Homo sapiens: one gene and its partners. The protein of the gene in region 1 interacts with the protein of each later gene in a biochemical or structural test. Each region holds a gene or a part of one and is shown on either strand. Other genes may lie near its edges.

Evidence for each region.
Region 2: of the proteins of RIGI (region 1) and RNF125, one has a biochemical effect on the other in vitro, tested with the Homo sapiens proteins (3 studies listed by BioGRID and IntAct, with this or other methods).
Region 3: of the proteins of RIGI (region 1) and TRIM25, one has a biochemical effect on the other in vitro, tested with the Homo sapiens proteins (5 studies listed by BioGRID, with this or other methods).
Region 4: of the proteins of RIGI (region 1) and RNF135, one has a biochemical effect on the other in vitro, tested with the Homo sapiens proteins (6 studies listed by BioGRID, with this or other methods).

The regions. Positions count from the first base shown.
Region 1 is NC_000009.12:32,481,172-32,488,196, reverse strand, and holds part of RIGI (antiviral innate immune response receptor RIG-I), read left to right. Parts: coding exon 1-252; intron 253-563; coding exon 564-726; intron 727-2,917; coding exon 2,918-3,022; intron 3,023-3,053; exon of another isoform or gene 3,054-6,699; coding exon 6,700-6,857; exon of another isoform or gene 6,858-7,025.
Region 2 is NC_000018.10:32,014,206-32,021,831, forward strand, and holds the start of RNF125 (E3 ubiquitin-protein ligase RNF125), read left to right. Parts: upstream 1-4,619; 5' UTR 4,620-4,658; coding exon 4,659-4,822; intron 4,823-7,626. UniProt on the Homo sapiens protein: E3 ubiquitin-protein ligase that mediates ubiquitination and subsequent proteasomal degradation of target proteins, such as RIGI, MAVS/IPS1, IFIH1/MDA5, JAK1 and p53/TP53.
Region 3 is NC_000017.11:56,904,041-56,911,065, reverse strand, and holds part of TRIM25 (E3 ubiquitin/ISG15 ligase TRIM25), read left to right. Parts: intron 1-2,502; coding exon 2,503-2,598; intron 2,599-6,577; coding exon 6,578-6,811; intron 6,812-7,025.
Region 4 is NC_000017.11:30,981,025-30,988,049, forward strand, and holds part of RNF135 (E3 ubiquitin-protein ligase RNF135), read left to right. Parts: intron 1-3,592; coding exon 3,593-3,736; intron 3,737-6,919; coding exon 6,920-7,025.

The DNA of each region.
Region 1 (7,025 bases):
GTTACAGGCATTTCTGGAGCAACAGCTGAGAATGTCCCAGTGGAACAGATTGTTGAGAACAATGACATCATCATTTTAACTCCACAGATTCTTGTGAACAACCTTAAAAAGGGAACGATTCCATCACTATCCATCTTTACTTTGATGATATTTGATGAATGCCACAACACTAGTAAACAACACCCGTACAATATGATCATGTTTAATTATCTAGATCAGAAACTTGGAGGATCTTCAGGCCCACTGCCCCAGGTATCTCCAAAGTCAGACGAATGCTTCAGAAGAGCTATAATCTTCCTAACTCCTATTTTCTTACTCTTATGGCCACACTGAAGATGTCCTTCTCAGGTCCCAAGTCCATATTGTACAACTCATTATGAATTTTGTTTCCTTTATTCATTTGTTCACTTAGTAAATATGCATTATGTGCCTCCATGTGCCATACACTGTGTGTTAGTAAAAACAAAAAAACGCCCTACCCCAGCAGGAAAGAGTTATATGAGGGGTTGTGGAAACATTGTACCATTTCTCAGACATCTAATGATTTTGAATGCTCCTTACAGGTCATTGGGCTGACTGCCTCGGTTGGTGTTGGGGATGCCAAAAACACAGATGAAGCCTTGGATTATATCTGCAAGCTGTGTGCTTCTCTTGATGCGTCAGTGATAGCAACAGTCAAACACAATCTGGAGGAACTGGAGCAAGTTGTTTATAAGCCCCAGAAGTGTAAGTTGGATCCAATAACAAGCCTTTGAGATTCTGTTACTCTCTACTACCTCTAGTTCAGAGCCATCTAGACGAATACTGAACTTTGACCCTCTCTCTGTTTAGTAGAAAATATTTAACCTTGAACTTGAGTAACAGTCACATTTTTTAGCCTCTCTAACTGAGCTCTCATCCCAAGCAATGGATGAACCTCAGAAGTGGCCTGTAGAGAGCAAACATTCTTCCTCTTTGCTTCCAAAAACCTCTTATAAATGTACTAGCAATGCAAAAGAGGTGATGAGAGAATTTAGGCATCAGATAGCCAAGAGCTGGGCTCACTCAGCCTTTTCCCATGCTCTGTGCCTGTGTGGTCATCACTGTTTGAATATGTATTTGATCATTTTAGTTGAAATGGAATGATCTGAATTCATGATGTCACTCCTCCAAAGATCAGATATGATTTTTTAATATGACTAACAGTTGTTTATTGATGTTATTATTACACTAACCCTGAAAGGAAGAGAGGGATACAGAAAATATATATGACTTCACCCTTGCTCTCTGAGTAGTATGTGACTGTATTTCTGAGGTAGAACAAATAGACATGTAATAGGGAGTGGTGTAGATAAGTTCCTTTTTGAAGGCTGCTTGTAAGTAAGGATTTTGATGTACCTGATCCCAACTTTTCAGTGTCACATATGAATTTCTTTACAATCCGGTTCCTCCTGCCCTCTGAGCTTCATCACCTCCAAACATTCATAAACCCAACCATGTTGCATTCCTCTGGGCTCCTCAATCATGCCGTGTGCTTTCTCTCTCCCACCTTTTGTCTGTGCTTCCTTTGTACATCACTGCTCTTTTTTTTTTTTCTTTTTCTTTGCCAAGTTGTGATGGAATATACATGACTACTCTTGCTTTCTTCTTTCTTCTTCCTGTATTTATTCTACAACTCTGACTTCCCTGGAAGAATTAGGTGTTACTTTCCCTGTGTTTTGTGACACTTTGCGTGTACTACTTCTTTTTTTTTTTTTTTTTTTTGAGACAGAGTCTCGTGCTGTTGCCCAGGCTGGAGTGCAGTGGTGCGATCTCGGCTCACTGCAAACCTCCACCTCCTGGGTTCAAGTGATTCTCCTGCCTCAGTCTCCTGAGTAGCTGGAATTACAAGCGTGTGCCATCACGCCTGGCTAATTTTTTGTATTTTTAGTACAGACAGGGTTTCACCATGTTGGCCAGGCTGGTCTTGAATTCCTGACCTCAAGTGATCCACCCTCCTCGGCCTCCCAAAGTGTTAGGATTACAGGTGTGAGCCACCACACCCGGCTACACTTTACATGTACTTCTGTTAGAGAACTGCTACGGTTAGTTAGCCATGTATATTTCTCTCCCTTAAGATCACAGCCCTGTATGGAGCATGAAGTGTGTTCTTTCAACTGTCTATAATCAAAGCATGGCACATTGCAGGCAATTAATAATTAGGCTGAAATAATATATTGATAAATGGTAGGATCAGTGTGAATACTGCTGGGAGCTGTGTGGGGAGGGAGAATATCAAAGCACAGAGACAGGGTTAGATTGTGGCACTTGCAGAGACATGAGAGATGCCCGCCTCATCAGAGAGGAGGTAACAGGACAGCCACAGTAAGAAGCTGGTTAGGCCGGGTGCGGTGGATCACGCTTGTAATCCCAGCACTTTGGGAGGCCAAGGCGGGTGGGTCACCAGCTCAGGAGTTCGAGACCAGCCTGGCCAATATGGTGAAGCCCCGTCTCTACTAAAAATACAAAAATTAGCTGGGCATGGTGGTGTGCGCCTGTTGTCCCAGCTACTTGGGAGGCTGAGGCAGAAGAATCACTTGAACCTGGGAGACGGAGGTTGCAGTGAGCCGAGATCGCGCCACTGTACTCCAGCCTGGGTGACACAGTGAGACTTGGTCTCAATCAAAAAAAAAAAAAAAAAAAAAAAGAAGCTAGTTAGACCTACACCATGAAAGACAGGTGTTAGAATCAGTACAAGAAGCAACAGGGAGCCATTGCATTTTGAGCATTTGTTGTATCATCTGGACCACCTGCCAGTTAGCCTGGAACCTTAGGTTTTTCAGAGGAAGTATCAAAGGCAGAGAAAGGTTTTAGAGATACCTACTTTGAACTACAATCTGTCCTTCCTGAAAATATACTCACTCTTTTTTTCTTTTTCTTTTTTTTTTGACGTCTCTAGTTTTCAGGAAAGTGGAATCACGGATTAGCGACAAATTTAAATACATCATAGCTCAGCTGATGAGGGACACAGAGAGTCTGGCAAAGAGAATCTGCAAAGACCTCGGTGAGATAAATCTCATATTTTGTGTTCTCTCTACTGGGGAATAGCCATTTATTGTTCACTATCGTCTTTTTGTGTTCTCCTTAGTTCAGACAATGTCAAGACCATATCCAGAGGTTGTCTTCCTTGATTATAGGTTATTTAGGAGCCTTATATGTCCTCCTCTATTCTTTCTTTCTTCCTTTTTTTCCTTTTAAATCCAAAGTAAGTTCATCCAGACACATGCACCTGAAAAATAACCATACTTAAGTCAGTTCATTGCTTTCTCTACCTTCTAAATCAGCTTTCCCTCCTGACTTTCCTGTTCACCTGAATGAAACCACCATTCCTCTACTGGCTCAGATTTATATCTAGGGACAATCACCCAGCACATTTCCCAGCATTAAAGGAGTGCGACTAGAGATGGGCCAGGGGAAGACAGTGAAGGGCCTGGATTTGAATTTTATCCTAAAAACAATGGGGAAAAAAGTGAAGATTAAAACTGATTAGTGACGTAATAAAGATACCAGTGAATGAGAAGGACCAAAGAGAGGCAGTAGAGATGGATTGGAGAAGGAAGGAGACACATGTGAGATGCTTCCAACTGTGAGTGTTATGATTGAATGGCTAAACGGATTTGGGTGGGGATGAGAAAGGGGCAGGAGGGGCTGATTTCCCCCCAGGCATCTGGCTTAGGCACCTCTATGAATGCCAGTGGGTGGTCCTGGTACCAGGACTAGAAGCAGCCTTGGCAGGTACAAGGTTTTGAGTTTTGAGTTTTAGGGATGTTAAATGTGACGTCTGTAAGACACCTCATGGAGTGTCTCCTCTCACACTTATTTTGCTTTTCTCTCCCCTTTTCTTTCACAGTTTAATTTCTATTATAATTGTTCTAACAGCCTTCTAGCTGATTTTGCCTACCTCTGCTCTCTCTTCCATTCAACCTCTCATGAACTAGTTAGTCTTCATGAATACATTTTATCATGTCCCTGTCCTGCTTAAAAACCCTTTGCCTACAGGATAATCTTCACGCCTCTAACCTGCAGTCTGAGCCCTGCCTGAACACCCAGGTTCTACTTATCTTTCCAATGTTATATTCTACTACTTCCCTACCTGAATCCTTTTGATTTAGCAGTTTCCCGAATGTGTTCATGCATATGTTCATTCATTTAGTGCTAAGGAATGGGCTAGGTGATGGGAATACAGCATGAACCCTAAGATACAGCCCCTGGCCTCAGGGCATTTCTAGTCTGATGGTAAGACCAAAATTAGAGAAGTAATACTAATACTAAAGCAGCTGGTGTGGTGGGGGTGATAAGGTGTGTTTCAGGCACAGGGAATAGCATATGCAAAGGCCAGGAGACTAGAAAGAGTATAGGGACTTCCATTAGTCCTGTAGAATGCTGAAAGGAGAGTGGCCAGAAATGAGAAGCAAAAGCAAGCAGAGGCCAGAGCATGGGGAGGAGTGTGTGAGCTGGGGCAGGATTTTGGCTGCAGGACCACTAAAGGCTTTTAAGCAGTGGGGTGGGATGATTTCTCATCTGCAATTTTGCAAACTCCCTCTAACCACTGGGTAGAGTATGGGTTAGAGGGAACAAGGCAAGAGGAAGGGAGACCAGTTTGGAGATTGTCATATTATCCAGCAGCACACTGATGTGGTTTGAATTGGGGAAGTAGCAGAAGGATGGAGAGACGGTGATGGAGTCACGTGAGTTTCTATTTTCTTACTCCTCCCACCTCCCGTACCCTGCCTCCACCTTTTTGCCAGTCCGAATCCAGTTAGCTGCTCATCTCTAAACTGCTTAGGCTATTTTTACACCTACCCAGGTTCAATCAGTACCTGTTGGCTCATCTTCTTTACTGCTGGCCACCTCGCTGTAGCTGCAACTTGGAAAGAAGCATGTCAATACTACTTGTTTGGGTAGCCTCCTTTGTTCCTATTATTGAAAATGAATGAGTGAGGGGAAGAATTTAACCCAGAAATACAGCTCTTGCTTGTGACTTTTGTTGTACTGTGCTCTTCATGAGGAGCCCTGGCGAACTGATACCAGAGTAACTCACAGACTCAGCTGCTTGAGAACACAGCCATAGTCTCCTCATCTTATCCCCAGCACCCTACACAGAGCCTGGACCACAGCAGATGCCCCAGCTTTGAACCAAGCAACTGAGGCTTATCCTAGGAGATGCACACAGACAGATGCATGTGTGATAAGTGTCTTTTGAGGGCCGATTCTATGCTTGGCCCTGAGAATGCTGCTCTGGAGAACAGGAGGCCCAAGTTCACAGCAAAGCAGAACATAGGGTGAACTGAGTCCTAAATCTCCTCCTTGATTTTTTTTTTTTTTAAGAGTCTCACTCTGTCGCCAGGCTGGAGTACAGTGACGTGATCTCGGTTCACTGCAACCTCCGTCTCCTGGGTTCAAGCGATTCTCCTGCCTCAGTCTCCTAAGTAGCTGGGACTTCAGGTGCGTGCCACCACCCCCAGCTAATTTTTGTATTTTTAGTAGAAACGGGGTTTCACCCTGTTGGCCAGGGTGATCTCAATCTCTTGACCTCGTGATCCACCCGCCTGGGGCTCCCAAAGTGCTGGGATTACAGGCATGAGCCACTGCGGCCGGCCAATCTCCTGCTTTTATATATCCTCCTCTGATGAAGCTCTTGAGACCTGTTATTTTTACTTCTTCATTTTTAAAGGCAAAGTTGGGTTTTTCATGTCTACTGTTTTATTTCTGGGCTGCTTTGGTTGTCAGCTCATAGAGCCAGTAGAGCTTGGGCATCTGACACATGTGGGTTTGAATTCCTGCCCTTTCTCCACGTACTTGCTGTGTGACTATGGGTAAATTACTTATTACTTGGCTTTTCTGAACTTCAGTTTCCCAATATATGAAATGTAATATGTATCTCATGGGTTGTGAAAATTAAATGAAATTATGAATGTAAGGTACTTTGATTCTTGGTACACAGTACTCAAGAAACAATCAAACACACACACACACACACACACACACACAAACAAACACACAGATGCACTGCTTAAAACTCAAGGGAGGGAACAAGGCAAGAGGTAGGGAGAACAGTTTGGAGGTTGTCATATTATCCAGCAGCACAGTGGTGTTATCTCAATGGGGGAAGGAGCAGAAGGATGGAGAGATGGTGATGGAGTCACATGAGTTTCTATTTTCTTACTCCTCCCACCTCAGGTACCCTGCTTCCACCTTTTCACCAGTCTGAATCCAGTTAAATAGTTTTAACTAGATGACTTAAGACTATTTCAGGAGGAATATCCTGTTTGCAGAGAGTAAGAAAGAAAATTAGGCCAGGTGCAGTGGCTCACGCCTGTAATCCCAGCACTTTGGGAGACCGAGGCAGGCGGATCACCTGAGGTCAGGAGTTTGAAACCAGCTTGACAACATGGTGAAACCCTGTCTCTACTAAAAATACAAAAATTAGCCAGGCGTGATGGCACACGCCTGTAGTCTCAGCTACTTAGCAGGCTGAGGCAGGAGAATCGCTTGAATCCGGGAGGTGGAGGTTGCGGTGAGCCAAGATCGTGCCATTGTACTACAGCCTGGGCATCAGAGCGAGACTCTGCCTCGAGGAAAAAAAAAAAGAAAAAGAAAATTAGAGGGTGAGGCCTGTTTATAACCCTAAATGACTGACCATATGAGACAGTGAAAAACTTTTTTTTTTTTTTTTAACAGAAAACTTATCTCAAATTCAAAATAGGGAATTTGGAACACAGAAATATGAACAATGGATTGTTACAGTTCAGAAAGCATGCATGGTGTTCCAGATGCCAGACAAAGATGAAGAGAGCAGGATTTGTAAAGCCCTGTTTTTATACACTTCACATTTGCGGGTACGTTCCTCTTTTTAAGAGTCGTATTCTGGTCACAGCACCTACTGGGAGTGGCACCGTGGAAGCCAAGATAACATCAACTTCTCATCCTGTCCTCAAGAGCTCACTTAGGAACCTTTCCAGAAAGTTCTTATGAAGCAAACTCCAAAAGTTGTCCCATTCAACATC
Region 2 (7,626 bases), on another chromosome or scaffold:
GACAGAGCGAGACTCCATCTCAGGGAAAACAAAGACAAAAACAAAAACACAAAAATTTGAGAAAGTTTAGTTATGAATGGCAGAATGTTGGGTAGGAAGTGTTAAGTCCAAGAGAAAAATAAAAGCATGGATAAAGGCCTTGAGTCAGAGAGAACTTAACACACTCAAGGACTGAAATAAGTAGAGAAATTTAGAAGCCTGAAAAATAGGGAGGAGAGTGAAAGCAGCTAAGACCCCCAAATAGTTACTTTGGGAAACCTTACTGTTGGTCCATCCAATTGTCTCATCTCCTTTCTTGGTATAAGAACCCTATTTATGTTGTTTCAGAGAGCTGAGGTGCCAAGTCCTATGGAATAAATAATAAGTTTAAGCCAATCAGAGTGCTCCCATTCTCTTTTGCTAGTGACTGATTTAGGATGGCAATGGTGCCCAATTTTGACCAATTAGATAGGAAGGGAAGCCTGCAGAGGAAGGCCTCTAGGAAGCGTTTTTCTCCCATGTAAAAGAAGAGAGAGCTACAAGGGGGAAATCTTACCCTTTCCTTTTTGTTTTTGGAGGTTGTGTATAGAATTGACTGTTTCAGCCATAAGGGAGACATGCTGAGGATGGCAAGGGGCTGAGGCTGTGAGGACATAATTGAGCTGCTGAGACATCTCTGGAACTGTTTACACCTGGACTAGTTTGCCATATTCGATAATAAATATCTTTTTTTTTTTTGAGACAGAGTCTTGCTCTGTTGCCCCAGGCTAGAGTGCAGTGACATGATCTTGGCTCACTGCAACCTCTACCTCCTGGGTTCAAGCGAGTCTCCTGCCTCAGCCTCCTGAGTAGCTGGGCTTACAAGTGTGTGCCACCATGCCCGGCTAATTTTTGTATTTTTATTAGAGATGGAGTTTCATCACGTTGGCCAGGCTGGTCTCGAACTCCTGACCTCATGATCAGCCTGCCTCTGCCTCCCAAAGTGCTGGGATTACAGGTGTAAGCCACTGAGCTGGTCGATAATAAATATCCTTACTGAACGAGGCACTTTTAGTTGAATTTCTGATTCCTGCCATCAAAAGTAAGTCTTGCAGGAATTTTTAGATAATATTAAGGATTTGGAATTTAATCCTAAGGATTAGGAGAGCTATTAAAGGATTTTGTGCATGGGGTGACACAAGATGTTTGCTTTTCAAAAGATCACTTTAGTTGCCATGTGGATAATAAACTGGAGAGAGGCAATGATGGATGCGGGTAGAGCAGTTAGGAACTACTGCCATTAAGTCACACAAGAGAATGCAGTGATTTAAAATAAGCGGTGGCTATGGAAATAGAAGAAAATGAGCATGGTGGCTCACGCCTGTAATCCCAGCACTTTGGGAGGCCAAGGCAGGCGGATCATGAGGTCAGGAGTTCACGACTAGCCTGGCCAACATGGTGAAACTCCGTCTCTACCAAAAATATAATAAAATTAGCCGGGTGTGGTGGCATGCGCCTGCAATCCCAGCTACTCAGGAGGCTGAGGCAGGAGAATCACTTGAACCCAGGAGGCAGAGGTTGCAGTGAGCTGAGATTGCGCCACTGCACACTTCCAGCCTGGGCGACAGAGAGAGACTTCATCTCAGAAAAAAAAGAACTACTGAGATACATATTGGAGGCAGGATTGTGATTATGCTTGATTCAATGTGAATGAGGAAGAGGAAGAAATCAAGGATGACTTCCAGGTGTCTAGACTGAGCTATAAAGTGGATCATAGTGCCATTTGCTAAAAGAGAGATCAACCACTGGAGGAGGCTGCTACTATAATGAGTTCATTATTGGAGACATTGGGCTGAGGGTGTTTATGTCAAATGGTCAGTCATGTAAGCTATTAGGCTATTGGACATTTGAATGGCCTGGGGTAGAGATAAAGATGTGAAAGTTTTTGGAACCGAAATAGTGACAGAACCTGTGTGATTTTTGAGAGAAAGAGAAAGAGAGAAAGAGAGAGAGAGGAGAAGGGAAAAGGTCCTAAGACAGAATCCTAGGATCTCCAGCCCAGAGCCAGTGGAGAAGGAGACTCTGGCAAGGGAGAAGAAACAATAGCCAGAAAGAAAGAGGGAAAGTCAGAGTGTTTCCAGAAGGAGGGGATGGTCAGCACTAACAAACATAGTTGAGGGGTCAAGCAAAAAAAATAGCTGAAAAGAATCTATTGGAATTAGTTACATGAACGTCACCAGTGACACTGATAATAAAGCAGTTTTTGGACAGATGGAGGTGGAGAGGTTGGTTCAGAACCCAGACTGGACTGAATAAGAAGTGAATAATTAAGAAATGATGACAAAATGTAGAGGATCAGATCAAGAGATTTGGCCTTGAAGCGGATATGGGGCAGGAGTTGAGGCATAAGTGGGATGAAAGGGAGGTTTTTGTTTTCCTTTTGAAGATGGGAATAACTACCTTTTCATCTTATTTCCCCCCCCCCACCGCCTGCCCCCCACCACCCATGCTCCAGCTCCATAGGTCTTTCCTTTCTTTGGTTCTGCCTCATTCACTGTTCCCAGTCCACGCTTTTTCCTAAATCTTTGAATGGCTCACTTCTTTTCATTATTCATGGCTCTGCTCAAATGTCACTTCATCCAAAAATTCTTCTCTGAGCTTATTCTTCTCCTCATTGCCATTTACTGTTTTATCTTCTTCATGGCTCTGATTATCTGAAATGATTTTGTTCATTTGTTTATGGATTGATTACATGTATCTTCCTTTTGTTTGTTGTTTGTTTTTGAGACAGAGTCTCGCTCTGTTACCCACGATGGAGTGTAGTGGCATGGTCTCGGCTCACTGCAACCTCCACCTCTTGGGTGCAAGTGGTTCTCCTGCCTCAGCCTCCCAAGTAGCTGGGACTACACGCATGTGCCACCACACCTGGCTAATTTTTGTATTTTTAGTACAAAAATTTTTACTAAAGAAATGTATTTCTAGTAGAGACGGGGTTTCACTATGTTGGCCAGGCTGGTCTTGAACTCCTGACCTTGTGATCCACCTGCCTCGGCCTCCCAAATTGCTGGGATTTCAGGCGTGAGCCACTGCACCCAGCCTGTTTTGGTTTTTTGAGACAGGGTCTCCCTCTGTTGCCCAGGCTGGAGTGCAGTGGCATGATCTCGGCTCACTGCAGCCTCCACCTTTCCGGTTCAAGCGATTCTTGTGCCTCAGCCTCCCAAGTAGCTCACACCCAGCTAAGTTTTGTATTTTTAGTAGAGACAGGGTTTCACCATGTTGGCCAGGCTGGTCTCAAACTCCTGACCTCAGGTGATCTGTCCTTCTTGCCTCCCAAAGTGCTGGGATTACAGGCGTGAGCCACTGCCCCGGCTTGGTTTGTTTTTTGAGACATGGTCTCACTCTGTCGCACAGGACGGAGTGCAGTAGTGTGATCTTGGCTCCCGTGCTCAAGTGATCCTCCCACCTCAGCCTCCCAAAGTGCTGAAATTACAGGCGTGAGCCACGGTACCCGGCCTATATCTCCTAATTAAAAGTAAAGCCTGGGTGAAGTTTATGGCCTGCTAAATACGTACATGTATTATATGCGTTATTATATCCCATGTGTTATATTATATATTATTGTATATGTGTATTATATACTATGTACTATTCTTACAACTGTATGTGAATCTATAATTATCTCAAAGTTTTGTTTTTGTTTTTTAAAGTAAGTTCTGTGAGAACTGGGATTTTGTTTGCTTGTTGACGATTGTGTCTTCATCACTAGAACCGAGTCTGGCGTGCAGTGGGCACTAAATAAGTCTTCGTAAAAAGTGTAAATTAACGCCCGGCTAATTTTTGTATTATTAGCAGCGACGGGGTTTCACCATGTTGGCCAGGCTGGTCTCGAACTCCTGCCCTCAAGCAGGAGTTTCAAGCCCGCCTCGGCCTCCCAAAGTGTTGGAATTACAGGCGTGGGCCACCGCGCCTGGCTGATCATGTTTAAAGGGCGGGGTGGGGAGCGTACAAACAACAGAGGAAATCCTGAGCCGCAGAGGAAACTGGAGATGGCAGGGTTTAGCACTAGAATCTCTGTAGGAGAGGTAAGATTGGAATCCTAATCTCCAGGACTCTTTCCACTACCCAGGCTATCTCTCCATTAATGGACTATTGATTGGATGACAGAGTAGCGATAGCACCGTCTTAGGAGACGCCCAATCATAGGTCATAGGTCATTTTTGCAGCTTATTGTGATGACAACAGTGGAGGATGGTCTTCCACTTCACCTTAAAAGCGGCTGTTCTCTGATTATCATTAAGCATGGCCACGCCCGCACTTAACTTCTGACAGTGGGGAAAGCAGCTGTGTGTGATAGCTTGGAAGGTTTACTGCTGCCTCAAGTCCTCTTCTCTGCAGTTGAGGTTTCAGGTTTCAATCCTCCCAATACCACAAGACAGAGCACGGGGCGGCTGCCGCCTCCGCCTCCGCGCCTTAACCTAGGCGGCTTGCCGAAGATCTCAGCCCCGCGGCCGCGCGCTCGCCCTGCCCTAGACCAGGGTTGGGCGCAGCGGCGGAGGTGGCTTCTGGGCTGCGCGAGCTGGGAGAGCTGGGAGGCGGCGATCGCAGCTGGGCCGGGACTTCCTTCCTCCACCGCACGGCAACAAAACAACCCTGCGGCAGGCACTGAGTGCTTCGCAGCTGTCTGGGCGAGAGGCACAGCGATGGGCTCCGTGCTGAGCACCGACAGCGGCAAATCGGCGCCCGCCTCTGCCACCGCGCGGGCCCTGGAGCGCAGGAGGGACCCGGAGTTGCCCGTCACGTCCTTCGACTGCGCCGTGTGCCTTGAGGTGTTACACCAGCCTGTCCGGACCCGCTGTGGCCACGTGTAAGTTCCAGGGGAGCTCGGTTTGCGCCCACCCCTAAGGAGGGCGATGTGGGGAAGCTGAGGGCATGGTGTGGGGAAGGAGGGGGACGGAAGACAGCCTCTTAGGAAATTGCTGCAGGGAGAAACCTGGACCCGTCGGATGCAGGACCACGGGGAAAACGCGGGTCGGAAGGTGACACAGGATTTCGGGAGGAGAAAAAATAAACAAGCGGGTCCTGTAGCCCCCTTGCGCTTTCAGCTCCCGAAGCCCAGGTGCGGAACTCCAGAGAAGGGGATCCAGGCACGGGTCCCGCCCAGAGCCAGGGCTCGCCAACTGGGGAGGGTGCTCTTGGCTGGAGAACCAGCGCTCGCCCAGGCACGGAAAGGAAACGAGCTCCAGCTACAAGGCAGGGGCTCCCGCAAAGCGCAGTTACCCCGCTGAACACGGTAGAACGGGCTGCGCTTCCCTCTGCCCCAGAAACCCGGGTCCGTTTTGTTTTGCTGGAGCTGTGCACGTGTTCCCAGAATGCCCACAGAGGCTCGTCTTAAGCAAACAAGGATCTGTGCAAAGTGTCTTTCCACCCCCACCCCTGCTACCCTTTCCCAACACAGACACCCAGCCCCTCAAAGGGCAAGTCAAACTGGAGCTTCCGAGTGACTTTCCACAGTTGTTAGAGTTTAACAACCTGCTAGGGTGGGGCTTGGACGTTAGCCGCCAAGCCCCTGAATGTACTCCTTCAAAACCCAGCCACAACGTAACAGGAGGTGGCAGGCTACCTGCTTTACGCACGGTCTCTCCAAACCGGCGGAAATTACAGAGTAAAATAACTTTCTCAAAACCGCATAGTACTTAGCTAAAACTCACAGTTGGTGCAAAGCCGTGGTCGTTTCTAAGAAGAATTTAAAAACAAAGTCCCTATATAAAATTGGCACATCCTTAATGTGTGTTTGAATAACTGGTGGAGTTGGAGCTGTGAATTTGTGCTCTCTGTTTACTGTGTGTGTGTGTGTGTGTGTGTGTGTGTGTTTGAGAGAGAGAGAGAGAGACGTAGTCTGGCTCTGTCGCCCAGGCTGGAGTGCGGTGGTGCTATCTCGGCTCACTGCAACCTCCGCCCACTGCAACCTCCGCCTCCCAGGCTCAAGTGAGTCTCCTGCCTCAGCCTCCCGAGTTGCTGGGATTACAGGCGCCCACCCCCACACCCGGCTAGTTTTTGAATTTTGAGTAGAGATGGGGTTTCACCATGTTGGCCAGGCTGGTCTTGAACTCCTGACCTCAATTGATCCACCCACCTCGGCCTCCCAAAGTGCTGGGATTAAAGGTGTGAGCCACTGCACCCAGCCTTCTCTCTTTGCTTTGATTTTTTTTCGTGGATACGTGTGTGTGTGTTGTGTCTGCACAGATCAGGAGCGGAAGCCTACTTAATGTCCTTTGAAGGGTGACTATAGTATGATGAAGCCATGTGTGATACCACAGTGGCTTGTACCAGCATTTGGCTTAGCAGGAAGAAAGAAATACCGTTATTATGAATGCAAGTGCACAACATGTTTTTGAGGACCACTTTTGAAAGGATTTAGGTAGTCCTTAAAAACATGTTGTGCACTTGCAGTCAAAAGTTTTGACGCCCGGCGTGGTGGCTCACACCTGTAATCCTAGCACTTTGGGAAGCCGAGGTGGATGGATCACCTGAGGTCAGGAGTTCGAGACCAGCCTGGCCGACATGGTGAAACCTCGTCTCTACTAAAAATACAAAAATTAGCCAGGTGTGGTGACCCGTGCCTGTAATCCCAGCTACCTGGGAGGCTGAGGCAGGAGAACTGCTTGAACCTGGGAGGCAGAGGTTGCAGTGAGCTGAGATGGCATCATTGCACTCTAGCCCGGGCAACAGAGCAAAACTCAGTCTCAAAAAAAAGAAAGAAAAAAAAGAAAGTTTTGAAAGGACTTAGGTAATCCTTAATACCTATAGCCTTGTATCTGAAAAGCAGTTTTCACTACTGCCCGTCTGTGAGCCAGGGACAAAAGTGTGCAGCCTGCACAATGTATAAATAAAGAGTGCTTTGGGCATTATTTCGTAGCTGTGTTTTCTTTTCTTTTGAGATGGAGTCTTGCTGTGTTGCCCAGGCTGGAGTGCAGTGGCACGATCTTGGCTCACTGCAAGCTCCGCCTCCCGGGTTCACGCCATTCTCCTGCCTCAGCCTCCCGAGTAGCTGGGACTACAGGTGCCGCCACCACGCCCGGCTAATTTTTTTGTATATTTAGTAGAGACGGGGTTTCACCGTGTTAGCCAGGATGGTCTTGATCTCCTGACCTCGTGATCTGCCCGCCTCGGCCTCCCAAAGTGCTGGGATTACAGGCGTGAGCCATGGAGCCCGGCCGTAGCTGTATTTTCAAGGCCTGTTGTTTCAGCTTTGTTCTTAAAACTCGAGGCTTAAATTTACCCTCCTTTCTATTACTGATGTTGTTGCTCAGCTGTCCAGATGTAGCTTATTAACATAATATCCACAGGCCAGTCTGGAAGCCAAGATGGGCTGTGTGAGTCATAAAATATATTGATTATTTTAGGGCAATAACAGCCTAAAGATATCTCCATTTAAATTGAGTCATTATTAGCATTAAAACTTTAAAGTTGTGCAAAACATAAACAGTGGGCGTTTTGAAGATTCTTTTTGGAACAGACCGCTTTGCTATTCAATGATCTGACTGGAGATTGTTTTCTCGGTTTGGACTTTGAATATTATAATTTACCATTTACAATATTTTTCCTTCTACTAAAGGATAATATAAATTTGCAAAATGTTAAATTTTTTGTTTAATCTTTTTCTTTGTT
Region 3 (7,025 bases), on another chromosome or scaffold:
CTTGAACTCCCAACCTCAAGGGATCCTCCCACTTCAGCCTCCTGAAGTGCTGGGATTACAGGCGTGAGCCAGGAGCCTGGCCTAAACTCTGCTGTTTAATCCTAACAACAGGCCTTCCTCTGCCAACACCTACCCCCCTGTCCTGACTTGCTGAGTCCTATAACAGGTCTGCTTTTTGAGCCCTGCTACTGCTGCTCATCACTGTTGGCAGAGCCAGTCTCAGCTGGGCAATGCCCTTAGCCTCGGGGGCTGGGTTGCCTTGGCCACTGGTGGGGTCGGACTTGAGACTCTGGTGCCTCCCATGTGGAAGACCCAAGTCTCTAGTCTGTGAAGGGATCCTCAGGATTTCAAAAAGTCCTTTGCCTTTGATTAGGGGATTATTGCTGCTACCAAAGTTTTTGGGTCACTTTCCTTTGGTCTGGAGTCGTGTGGGCACCATTCATGATGAGGGTACTGCCGCATGTGTTTGATTAATGGTGTATCAAATCTTTCAAAATATAGGGCTCAGGGTGTAGTGCTATGAGCAGCTCTTGAAAGTGAAGCAGTTGGCAGCCTTGGGGTGTTCTGAGGTCTCTTCTTGCTCTGAGGCCAGCAAGGCCGGATGTATGTAGGCCTGGTCTTTGGCCCACACCTTATCTTGGCCACTGTTAGAGGCCAGGTCGAAGGGCAGTGTCACAGAGGTCAAGTTTGAAACATCATGAGCAGCTTGGGCTTTTCGGATTGAGTTAGTGTGGCCTTGGTCCCTGCCTCCAACCCCTACATGTGACTGTCACTGGGTTGTTCAAATCTAGATTCAAGATCAGGTTCCGCCCAGAATATCTTGGGTGGAGTTGAAGAGTCTGGGAAGTGGAAGAGAGAGCCAGAGTATGTTGAGCCTGCTAGTTACGGGAAGGAAATTTTTTTTTTCTAGAAATCTCCAGCATGCTCAGTTTGGGCATGTGTCTATGATTTTAATATCGGGATCTTAGCTGTGCCAGTTACTAGTAGTGTAGCTGGGGCAAGTCACTTAATTGTTCTGTGCCTCAGTGTCCTTGTCTGTAAAGGCTGGGTAATTCCTACCTCATAGTGTTGTTCTTAGCTTTAAGTAAGTTAATACAGGTAAAGCACTAGAACAGTGCCTGGCATACAGTAAGTGCATAATAAATACTGGCTGCTGCTGTTATGGTGGTGGTGATTTTCCTTCCCATTTCTGTGCAGTATTCATCTGAGCAGGGAGGTAGGAGACTCAGATATTGATTATGAAAATTAATTGAAATCAGATGAGGATATTAGCTTCCTTCATATACAGTTTGCCTTTGTTTCTGGAGGTGGCTAGGACTGAGCAGATTTGCACCTGGGCTTCAGCCCCTGTGAGCTACTTCATCTTTTTTTTTTTTTTTTTGAGACAGGGTCTCACTTTGTCACCCAGGCTGGAGTGCAGTGATGCCATCTCAGCTCACTGCAGGCTCAACCTCCCGGAATCAAGCGATCCTCCTGCCTCAGCCCCCTAAGTAGCTGGGACTACAGGTGTGCACCACCACACCTGGCTAATTTTTGTATTTTTAGTAGAGACAGGGTTTTGCCATGTTGCCCAAGCTGGTCTCGAACTCCTGAGAGCAAATGATCCACCTGCCTGGGCCTCCTAAAGTGCTAGGATTACAGGCATGAGCCACTGCGCCTGGCTGGCTGATTCATCTTATTCCCAGCCCTTGGTGGTCCCAGTCTGCAGTGAGCCTTGGACTCTGATTTCTGTCTCCCTGCCCTGTGAGGCTGACAAAGGCTCCCAGCCTTGTTCTGGGATTGGCAGATGCCTCTGGAGAGAACATCCTAGATATCAGGCTTATCTCTCTGGGCCCCCTTCCCCCTTCTCCTGGACCTTGACTTCTTAATCCTCTGCTTGATTGGCTCTCCAGCATCTTTTAGCAGATCTCCCCGCTGCCCCATTATTTGGACTGCTTTCCTGGCTGTTTGCAGTGGGAGGATTGGTCTGAGTGGCCCCACCTGCCATTACCGAAGCAGCTGTCCCAGCTCGTTCTGTTCCTGTGTGAGCTTGGCCACCTTTCTGTCCTCCTTGCTTGAGTTTCATTGGCTGTAAAATGGGTAATTAGAGAAAAACTCATAATAATATAAGCTGGCATTTAGTATGTTTTTCCTAAGATCCAGGCATTGGGCTGAGTACTTACATTGTTTCAATTAATCCTCCCAATAGCCCTGTGAGCTGGGGACAGTTGTATCTATTTTGTGTCCAAGAAAACTGAGGTGAAGGACACAGTTGCACAGCTGGGAGTTGGGACTGGAACCCTGGTCTGTACTGTCCTCTGAAAAGGATGAAGGGAAGTAGTAAGTATTAGAATGCTTCAAAAAGCTCCAAGCAGGCAAGACTCGGGTGACAGGACTTGGGGTGGCAAGACTTGGGTGGAGTGGAAGAGGAAGGAATCTATCCTGTGGGATAGTTCCAGGGATGGCTTCTGGTGGGGCTGGGCTGAAGAGGTGCATTCTCAACCTCATTTGTTTTCCCTGCAGGCCACCCTGAGGCACAAACTAACTGTCATGTACAGTCAGATCAACGGGGCGTCGAGAGCACTGGATGATGTGAGAAACAGGCAGCAGGATGTGCGGGTGAGTGGCAGGGCTCTCCAAGGCCAGCCCTGCCCTGTGGCTTCGCTCAGCTTCCACGCGGGATGGGCGTGGCTCTGACCATGACAAGGCTGGTGTTGGGTGCACTCACAGTGTCAGGATGAAACATCAACCTTGCAAAGCATGCAGACAGCTGTGTGTCTGAGAGAGATCCTTTGCAAACCCAAACCAAAAATTACCTATAAGCCCAACTGTGGGGGAAATCATTATAAATTAGGATTAAAAAGTAGTAATTCAGAAAAATGGTTATGATATAAAGTGGGAGAAAAAGAGGAAGCAAAAGTATATAGCTCATAGGGTTGCATCTATTTACAAAAAGGAAGTATATTAGTTTCATAGGGCTACTGTGACAAATTGCCAGAAACTTGGTGGCTTACAACAACAGAAATGTATTCTGGCAGAGTTCTGGAGGCCAGAAGTCCAAAATCAAGATGTTGGCGTGGCCACACTCCCGAAGTCTCTAGGGGAGAACCCTTCTTTGCTTCTTACAGTTTCTGGTGGCTCAGGCATTCCTTGGCTTTTGACTGCATCACTCTGATCTCTGCCTCTGTCTTCACATACCTGTCTCTTCTTCCCTTAGTGTCTTCCATCTCCAATAAGAACCCTTGTCATTGGATTTAGGGAGCACCTAGGTAATCTATGATGATCGAATCTCAAGATCTTTAATTGCATCTGCAAAGACCTCTTTCCTAAGTAAGATTACAGTCACAGGTTCTGGTATATGGACATGTCTTTTGGGGGCCCAGCATTCAACCCATTACAGAGAGCATGGAAAGAAACTGAAAGGGAATATTATAGAAGGATCATAGTGGAAGTGTTGGAGTGGTAAATTAGGAATGGTTTTGTTCCCCCTGTTTTTCAGATTTTCGATACGTTTAAATTGCTTTTAAATGGAAAGATCAGATTTTTACCCTTTTTCAGAGCTGCAGCACCAGTTTTATTGCAGCAGTTATGGTTTCATTAGATGAGATCTAGGTTAGAATACCAGCTCTGTCACATACTAGTTTATGTTGCTTTGGTCATGTTGACAGATCTTTGAACCTTCGTTTCCCAATTTGCACAATGGAATCACAAGTTCTTTCTGAAGATGACTGTGAGACAAATGAAAGAATGCACGTGAAAGTACCTGTATTTGTTAGAGGGCAGGCTATACTGCTGTAACAAAGATACACCAGAATTCAGAGGCTTAAATATGATTGAAGTTTATTTTACCAACTGACAGTCCAAACCCACACATGAGTAACCCAGACTAAGGGTTCATGTGATCATTCAGGGATTAAGGGTTCTCCCTTCTTATTACCCTACTATTCCACAAGGTATTGTCCCAGCCTCTTTGGTTGAAGCTGGGTTACCATTACATCTTTGTTCTAGCCTGTGACAAAGGGACAAAAAGGAGGTGGAGGACAACAAGCAATTTTCCTTTACACAAGTGACACAGTGTTGCACATATCACTCCTGGGCATGGGTCACTGGAAGGAGTTTTGTCACATCGCCTAGTCTAGCTGCAGGGGAGGCTGGGAAATGTAGTCTGAGTAGCCACACGCCCAGATGAAACTCCAGGGATGTTCTCTTACCAAAAGGAAAAAAGGGAAAATGAACACTGGGGGACACTTGTAGTCACATTAGAAGTTGCACAGTGAAAGATTGGCAAAGAAGGCTGGGCGCAATGGCTCACGCCTGTAATCCCAGCACTTTGGGAGGCCGAGACGCATGGATCACCTGAGGTCAGCAGTTCAAGACCAGCCTGGCCAACATGGCGAAACCCCATCTCTACTAAAAATACAAAAAATTAGCCGGGCGTGGTGGTGCATGCCTATAGTTCCAGCTACTCAGGAGGCTGAGGTAGGATAATTACTTGAACCCGGGAGGCAGAGGTTGCAGTGAGCCGAGGTCATGTCATTGCACTTCAGCCTGGGTGACAAGAGTGAAACTTCATCTCAAAAAAAAAAAATATTGGCGAAGAAATACTTGAATTCCTCTTTTCCAGTCTACTGTCCTTCTTGTGTGTTTTTCTCTTTGTTATGTTTGATTCTGAGCTATTGTCTTAGTCTGTTTTCTGCTGCTATAACGGAATACCACAGACTGGGTATTTGCAAAGAAGAGAAGTTTATTTGGCTCAAAGTTCTGGAGCCTGAGAGGTCCAAGAGCATGCTTCCAGCATCTGGTGAGGATCATCCATAGCGGAAGGATGGAAGGCAGGAGAGCGGGACAGGAAGAAGGAGGTCAAACCCTGTGATAAGAATATGAATCCATTCATGAGGGCAGAGCCCTCGTGATCTAATCACCTCAGTGGCAATTAAATCTCAGCATGAGCTTTGGAGGAGACATTCAAACCATAGCAGCTATTGAGGCTACCCAAGATGTGAAACAAAATTGCAGCTACTAAAGCAGTGCTGTCCAGCAGAAATACAGTAGGAGTGCAGATGTCATTTTAAGTTAATTTGAATAGTACATGAGATTTATTGTATTTTATTTATCTATCTTTTTTAGGACAGGTCTCACTCTATCACCCAGGCTGGAGTGCAGTGGAACAATCATAGCTCACTGCAGCTTTGAACTCCTGGGCTCAAGTAATCTTCCTGACTGAGCCTACTCCCCTTCACCACCCCCACTCTCCAGGAATACAGTCCATCTAATTTTTTTATTTTTATTTTTGTAGAGAAACAGTCTGTCTATGTTGCCCAGGCTGGTCTTGAACTCCTGGCCTCAAGCGATCCTCCTGCCTCGGTCTCCCAAGGTGCTGGGATTATGAGCATGAATCACTGCACTTGACTGAGATTAATTTTAATATTATAGTTTATTTAATTTGGTATATCTTAAATATTATTCTTTCAACATATCATCAATTTAAAAGTTTTAAGATATTTTACATTCCTTTTTTTGGTGTGAAACCCTTGAAAGCCAGTATGTATTTTACACTCATGGCAAGTCTCAGTTTGGACTAACCACATTTCAAGTGCTCAGTAGCCACATGTAGCAAGTGGCTATGTTATTGGAAAGTACAATCCTAGAGCATGATATTCTCTAGAAATTTTCCAGAGCTGCATCCTGACTTTTTGTTTTGTTTTATTTTATTTTATTTTTTTGAGATAGCGTCTCGCTGTGTCTCCCAGGCTGGAGTGCAGTGGCACGATCTCGGCTCACTGTAACCTCTGCCTCCTGGGTTCAAGCGATTCTCCTCCCTCAGCCTCCTGAGTAGCTGGGACTACAGGTGCGCGCTGCCACAACCAGCTAATTTTTGTATTTTTAGTAGAGATGGGGTTTCACCATGTTGGCCAGAATGGTCTTGATCTCTTGCTGACTTTTATTTTTAAAAATTGCCCATGAACCACCTTTAGCTTAAGAAATAAAATATCATCGATGCAGCCCCTCCCATCTGTTTCTCCCTTATTCTATCCCTCTTCCTCTCTTCCAGAAGTAACCACTCTCCTGAATTTATTTATTCATTCCCATGCGTTTCTTTGTGCATATAGCCATTCTGTTTGTTTCTAAGCTTTATTGAAAGAGCATCATATGGTGGATCTTCTTCTGCAAGTTGTTTTTCTCTCATGGAGATTTATCCAGGCATAGCTCCAGTTTATTAATTTTCATAACTGTTTAATATTCCATCCTATGAATAGCTCCCAGTCTTTGCTTCAAGTCTTCTTCTGATGGATGTTCAGGTTGATTCCAGGTTTTTGCTACTTCAGACAATGCTGCCTGTGAACATTCTTATGCATGTCTCAGGGGCAGGTGGCTGCAATTTTTTGTAGCACATATTCCTAGGACTGGAGTTGCCGAGTCATAGCCTATGAGCACCTCCAAATTTATTAGATATTGCCAAGTTGCTCCCCACAGTGGTTTGTTCTCCCACAAAGTACAGGTAAGAGTTCCTGGAACTCCACATCTCACCCATGCTTGGGGCTGCAGCCTTAGCACTTTTGCCCCTTTGACGGGCATCCTCTTACCTTGGCCCTCTCAGATGACTGCAAACAGAAAGGTGGAGCAGCTACAACAAGAATACACGGAAATGAAGGCTCTCTTGGACGCCTCAGAGACCACCTCGACAAGGAAGATAAAGGAAGAGGAGAAGAGGGTCAACAGCAAGTTTGACACCATTTATCAGATTCTCCTCAAGAAGAAGAGTGAGATCCAGACCTTGAAGGAGGAGATTGAACAGAGCCTGACCAAGAGGGATGAGTTCGAGTTTCTGGAGGTAGGTCGCCACAAGGCATTGTTGAATGTTTTTTTTTTTTTTTTGCCTGATGTCATGCTGTTGATGATAGGGCCCTCAAGGAGCGGGAGACTGGAAGAGGTCACTGGAAGCATCCCTGAGACACACGCTGTATTAGTTTTCTGAGCTGGGCAACAACTTACCACAAATGTAGGGGCTTCAAAAAACACATATTTATTCTCTCAGAGTTTCTCTG
Region 4 (7,025 bases), on another chromosome or scaffold:
TTGTAGCGAGCCGAGATCACGCCACTGCACTCCAGCCTGGGCACCATTGAGCACTGAGTGAACGAGACTCCATCTGCAATCCCGGCACCTCGGGAGGCCGAGGCTGGCGGATCACTCGCGGTTAGGAGCTGGAGACCAGCCCGGCCAACACAGCGAAACCCCGTCTCCACCAAAAAAAAACGAAAACCAGTCAGGCGTGGCGGCGCGCGCCTGCAATCGCAGGCACTCGACAGGCTGAGGCAGGAGAATCAGGCAGGGAGGTTGCAGTGAGCCGAGATGGCAGCAGTACCGTCCAGCTTTGGCTCAGCATCAGAGGGAGACCGTGGAGGGAGAGGGAGAGGGAGAGGGAGAGCGTGGTGATGACTCTTAACCGATTTTTAATTATTTCAATCATTTTGTTAAATTTACCTGATAGAATTCTGAATTCCTTCTCTGTTATCTTGAATGTCTCCGAGTTTTCTTAAATCAGCTATTTTGAATTCTCTGTCTGAAAGGTCACATATTTCTGTTTCTCCTGAATTGGCTCTTGGTGACTTATTTAGTTAGTTTGGTGGGGTCATGTTTTCCTGAATGGTCTTGATGCTCGTGGATGTTTGTCAGTGCCTGGGCATTGAAGAGTTAGTTATTTATTGTAGTCTTCACAGTCTGGGCTTGTTTGTACCTGTCCTTCTTGGGAAGGCTTTCCAGGAATTTGAAAGGACTTGGGCGTTGTGATCTAAGCCGTATCTGCATTAGGGGGCACCCCAAGCCCAGTAAAGCTGTGACTCTTGCAGACTACTAGAGGTACCACCTTGGTGGTCTTGTATAAGATCCAGAAGAATTATCTGGATTACCAGGCAGAGATTCTTGTTCTCTTCTCATACGTTCTCCAAAACAGTCTGTCTGTGTGCTGAGCTGCCTGGAGCTGGAGGTGGGGTGACAGAAGCACCTTGTGGCCATGACCACTAGAACTGCACAGGGTCAGACCTAAAGCCAACACAGCACTGTGCCTTACCCAAGCCCCTTGTTAACCACTATCTGGCTACCACCTATATTGACTCAAGGACCTAGGGCTCTATAATCAGCAGATGGCAAAGCCAGCCAGGCTTGTGTCCTTCCCTTCATGGTGGCACATTCACCCAGGCTCGGGGCCGGTCCAGAGACCCATCTCAGCACTAGGACTTGCCTAGGAGTTGCAGTCCTTGTGGCCTAGACTGCCTTTCAAGTTTATTTAGAGCCCCAGAGCACTTCAGCCCACAGTGGAGAGGCTTGCCAGAACTCAGGTTCCAATAACTGGGGTGGGTGATTTGATTCCTCTCTGGCTAGGACTGATCTAAATGCTCCCTCTGTGGGTAGGCGTCAGCTGAATTCAGCCCAGTTTTGCTTTGTGAAGCGACAAGGCAAAGTCTTTCTATTCTCTTTATCACCATGCTCTCCCTTTCCTGAGTGCACAGATTCTCTGTGCATGTGGCCCCTGACACATGGGATATGGGTTGCATTGGCAATTCAAGACTGTTTCTCCTACCCTCTTCAGTGCCTGTTTCAGTAATATAAAGTTAAAACCAGGTACTGTAAGTACCCCTGATTTTTGGTTCTTATGAAGGTGCTTTTTTGTGTAGTTGTTAAATTTGGTGTTCTTGTGGGAGGGATGATCAATGGAGCCTTCTATTTGGCTATCTTGCTCTGCCCTCTCCACCCTTAAGTCTTCTGGCTTTCCCCCACTTCTCTCTGGCCCTAAACCATTTTTAAGTATACAGTTTGGTGATATGAAATACATTCACAATGTTTTGAAACCATCACTACCATCATTTCCATAACTTTAAAAAATTTTAAATTAACATGACTGGTTCTTCAGGGTACCATAACTCTTTTCAACTCGCAAAAGTGGAATTCTAGGAGGACATTAAAATTCTCCATTTCCTCTTCCCCCAGCCTCTGGCAACCATCATTCTAATTTCTGTCTCTGATTTTGACTACTCTAAATACCTCATATAAGTTGAATCATACAGTATCTGTCTTTTTGTGACTGGCTTATTTCACTTAGCATAATGTCTTCAAGGGTTATTTATGTTGTAGCATGTGTCAGAGTTCCCTTCCTTTTTAAGGCTGAGTAGTATTCTATTGTATGTATATGCCACTTTTTGCTTATTCATTCATTTGTCTGCAGATACTTGGGTTGCTTCCATGTTTTAGCTAGTGGGAATAATACTGCTATGGGCATGAGTTTATGAATCTCTTTGAGATCCTGTTTTCAATTCTTATATATCCGGAAGTGGAATTGCTAAATCATATGGTAATTCTAATTACATATATGTACATATATATATATATATATATATATATATATATATTTTTTTTTTTTTTTTTTGAGATGGAGTCTGGCCCTGTCGCCCAGGCTTGAATGCAGTGGCATGATCTTGGCTCACTGCAACCTCCATCTCCTGGGTTCAAGAGATTTTCTTGCTTCAGCCTCCCAAGTAGCTGGGATTATAGGTGCCTGCAACCACACCTGGTGAATTTTTGTATTTTTAGTAGAGATGGGGTTTCACCAGGTTGGCCAGGATGATCTCGAACTCTTGACCTCAGGTGATCCACCCGCCTCGGCCTCCCAAAGTGCTGGGATTACAGCCATGAGCTATTGCGCCTGGCCTATTTTTAATATTTTGAGCAGCCACCATTCTGTCTTCCATAGTGGCTATATCATTCCCACCAACAGTGCAGAGGGTTCCAATCTTCCCACACCATCAACATTTGTTATTTTGGTTTTTTTTTTTTTGATAGTAGCCAACCTAATGAGTGTGAGGTGGTATCTCACTGTATGTTTTGATTTGCATTTCCCTAGTGATTAGTGATCTTGAGTGTCTATTCATGTGCTTATTGGTGATTTGTATATCTTCTTTGGAGAAATAGCTATTCAAGTTCTTTGCCCATTTCAAAATTCAGTTGTTTGTGGGTTTTTGCTTGTTTGTTTTACCAACCAAACAAGCGGCAGTGATATGTTTTTATTGTTGAGTTTTAGAAATTCTCTGTATATTCTCAGTATTAATGCCTTATCAGATGTATGACTTGCAAATATTTTCTTCCATTTTTGTGGATTGCCTTTTTACTCTATTGTTCGTGTCTTTTGATGCACAAATGTTTAAACATTTCATGTAGTCCAATTTGTCTCCTTTTTTCTTTTGTTGCCTGTGCTTTTAGTGACATATACAATAAATCATTGCCAAATCCAATGTCATAAATTTTGCCCTATGTTTTCTTCTAACAGCTGTATTATTTTAGGTCTTACATTTAGGTCTTTGATCCATTTTGAGTTAGTTTTTGTATATGATGTTAGGTAAGGGTCCAGCCATATTCTTTTGCATATAGATATCCAGTTTTCACAGTACAATTTGTTGAAAAAACTGTCCTTTCTCCATTGAATGGTCTTGGCACCTTCGTCAAAAATCATTTAACTATATATGTGAGAGTTTATTTCTGGGTACTCTATTGTATTCCATCGGTCTGTATGTCTGTTTTTATGCCATTACCACAGTATTTATGATTCCCTCTGTCTAGTGGTGGTTCCTGGGTCCAGTTTTATAGAACCCAGGACCTGAACTTTGCTATTTTGAAGGTGGCAGTAGAGAAGAGCATCACAGAAGTTGCTCAGGAGCTGACAGAGCTGGTGGAACATCTTGTAGACATTGTCAGAAGCCTGCAGAATCAGAGGCCCCTATCAGAATCTGGACCAGACAACGAACTGAGCATCCTGGGCAAGGTAGGCTCCACTGGGAGAGGAAAGGATGTGGAAGGGAATAGGGCTAGGGATTGCTTTCAACTGGAACAACATGAACATATTTGAACCTGAAGGATACAATAAGTCTCAATCTTTTATTGTTCTCTTTACTACCAGACATGGATGATTGGACATTTGGAATGCTTGAGGTAAGGTTGGGAAGCTTCAGATGGGCTAGGATCACTCCACCTAACAAGCTGTCTCTAAGATCACCAGTGACCTCTGTGTATAACGTTCTGGTGCCTGTCTCTATAAGCGTTCTGGTGCCTGTCTTCATTGACCTTTCAGCAGCCTTTGACACTGTGGACCACACCTTCATTCTTAGCTTTTGGGACAGGAATCTTTTGGCTTTCCCCCACCTCTCTCTGGCTGATCCTTCTCAGTCTGTTTACAGGCTCTCTCTCCTCTGCTTAGGAATTAAATGCTGGAGTTCCTCAAGGCTGAGTTGTAGGTCCCTTTGTTTCCCCTGCAGGTAGTCTTCCCTGCATCCATGGCTTTAATGACCACCTCTATGCACAAATAATAGCTCCAGGCTGGAGCCTTCTCTGAGCACTAGGCTGCTATGTCTTCCTTCTCATCTTTTCTTCTTGGGTATCTCAAAGCATCACACTTAATGCGTCCTAAACTGCTCCTCTTCTGGGATTTCTCATCTCAATGCTTGCCCCATTATCTTTCCAAGTACAGAAGCCAGAGACCTGGAAATCATGTTACCTTCTTCTCCCTTACCCTAATATGCAGCATATTGTAGCTTTAAGACCTGCCTAATTACCTCTCAAATCTATTTACTTATTCTTGAGCTCCTTTGAGACTTGCTCTAATCCAAGCCTCTGATAATTTCATGTCTGGATTGCTGTCATAGTCTTCCAAATGCTCCACTCTCCCTCTTCTAGTCTGTTTTCCTCATGGTCATCACAGTGACTACCACAAACATCAATCTGAAAATGTAACTCATCTGCTTAAAACATTCAAATTACATCAGTTTGCTCAGGAGTAAGACCCAAATCCTCACAGGACCAGCAAAGCCCTGTAGGATCCCATCTCTGTCTGCCTCTCAAATCTCATCTCTGCTCATGCTGCCTGGCTCTGTGCGCTCTAGCTACACTGGCCGCACAGTCGCTCTAGTGTGTCTCACGTCTTCCCACTACAGGGCACCCTTCATGGAATGCTCTCCTTTCCCTCCATCACTTAGGTAATACTTGCTCATCCTTCAGATCCTAGCTAGAACGTCATTTCTTCAGAAAGAAGCCTTCAATGATTTCCTTGAACAAATCAAATCTCCCCATTAGAGGCTCTGAGGACTCCATGTACCTTTCATTTGTAGTGGTTATCACCATTGCACCTTTGTAATGTCTTGTGCCATACTCTATATTAATGTCTGCCCCCCTCCCTTTTCCTTCACTGGACTCTCAACTTCAGGAGGATAGGGACTTTTGATGCTTTTTTTTTTTTTGAGACAGAGTCTTGCTGGAGTGCAGTGGCGTGATCTCAGCTCATTGCAACCTCCGCCTCCTAGGTTCAAGTGATTCTCCTGCCTCAGCCTGCCGAGTAGCTGGGACTACAGGTGTCCGCCACCACTCCTGGCTAATTTTTGTATTTTTAGTAGAGACGGGGTTTCACCATACTGGCCAGTCTGGCCTCAAACTCCTGACCTTGTGATCCACCTGCCTCGGCCTCCCAAAGTGCTGGGATTACAGGCGTGCGCCACATTGCCTGGCTGATGCTTTTGTTCTTTTGTCCACCATTGTGTCCCCAGGCGCTAGCACAGTACCCAAGTACCCACTTACAGTAGGGGTTCAACAAATACCCACTGAATGTATGGATAAATCCATCTTTAGGGATGCGATGTGTTGGGATAGAAACGCTGAGAGTCTGACTTTCAGAATTGACATTGTCACTCACTAGTATTATGACCTTGGGCAAGTCATTTCATCTATCTGCGTCTCAGGTTCCTATCTGTAATATAGAAATAATGATACAGGGCCTGCCACATCATTGGTTTATTGTGAGGATTAAAAGAGGTATAAGAAAGTGCTTGAGCAATGTTAAAATGTGGGATGTTATAATTAACTGTGGCAATTTAGTTAACCTTCATGAATTTCATCTTCTTTTGTAAAACGGAGATTTTTTACAGGTTGATAAACCTACTTTGTGAGGTTGTTATGCAAATGAGAGAAAGGCAATATCTAGCATGTAGAAAACACTCAATAAGTGTAATACTACCGTATTTTGATTGGTGGAAAGAATGGGGAGTGGATTATGCAAAGGTGGGAAGGAAAGGGGTTGAAGTTGGTGAGCAGATAAAGGGCTGTATTGGGGAAGAACAGGACCTGAGGCTAAAGAAAATCAGGGAGCATGTGTTGAAGGCCCTAGAAAGCAGGACCTGGATGCAGGCAATTTGAGAGGGAGCTCTTGCGAAGTGAAATGATATAATGATAGAGGTGGGAAAAGGTTCCTTTTTTTTTTTTTGTGAAATGGAGTCTTGCTCTGTCGCCCAGGTTGTAGTGCAGTGGCATGATCTTCTCAGCTCAGTACAACCTCTACCTCCCGGGTTCAAGTGATTGTCCTGCCTCAGCCTCCCATGTAGTTGGGATTACAGGCACTTGCCATCATGCCTGGCTAATTTTTGTATTTTTAGTACAGACAGGGTTTCACCATGTTGGCCAGGCTGGTCTCGGATTCCTGACTTCAGGTGTTCTACCCTCCTCAGCCTTCCAAAGTGCTGGGATTACAGGTGTGAGCCACCACACCTAGCCGAAAAGGTTATTCTGACCTCCATGGTTTATCTCAGTAACTATCTGTAGTATTTATTTTATAAAGCCCCTATAAGATGCGCCTAGAAATGTTAAACTTTTTTGGTATTACCTAAGAAATCCATGTTTATTGTGCAAAATATTAGAAAGCACATAGCATTAAATAAAGCAAATTAAAGTGCTCCATAACTCCATCACCCAGAAATAACCACTCTTTGATATTTTTGCTGTACTATGTACAGCAAATTATTCCAGATTTTTTTCAAGGCATATTTTTTGAGGGCCTAATTTTGTTTTTAAAAACTTGCTGGGAATTAAATAGAAAATTATAGATGAATAGAAAAACTTGAATATAATAGTTGATAGACTGCATAGGGGACTTCCATTTATTCAGTTTTAAATGGTTTATCAATAGGCTTTTTCTTCTGGGGTGGATCTTTCCATGGCTTCTCCAAAGCTGGTGACTTCCGACACAGCTGCAGGGAAAATCAGAGATATTCTCCATGACCTAGAAGAAATTC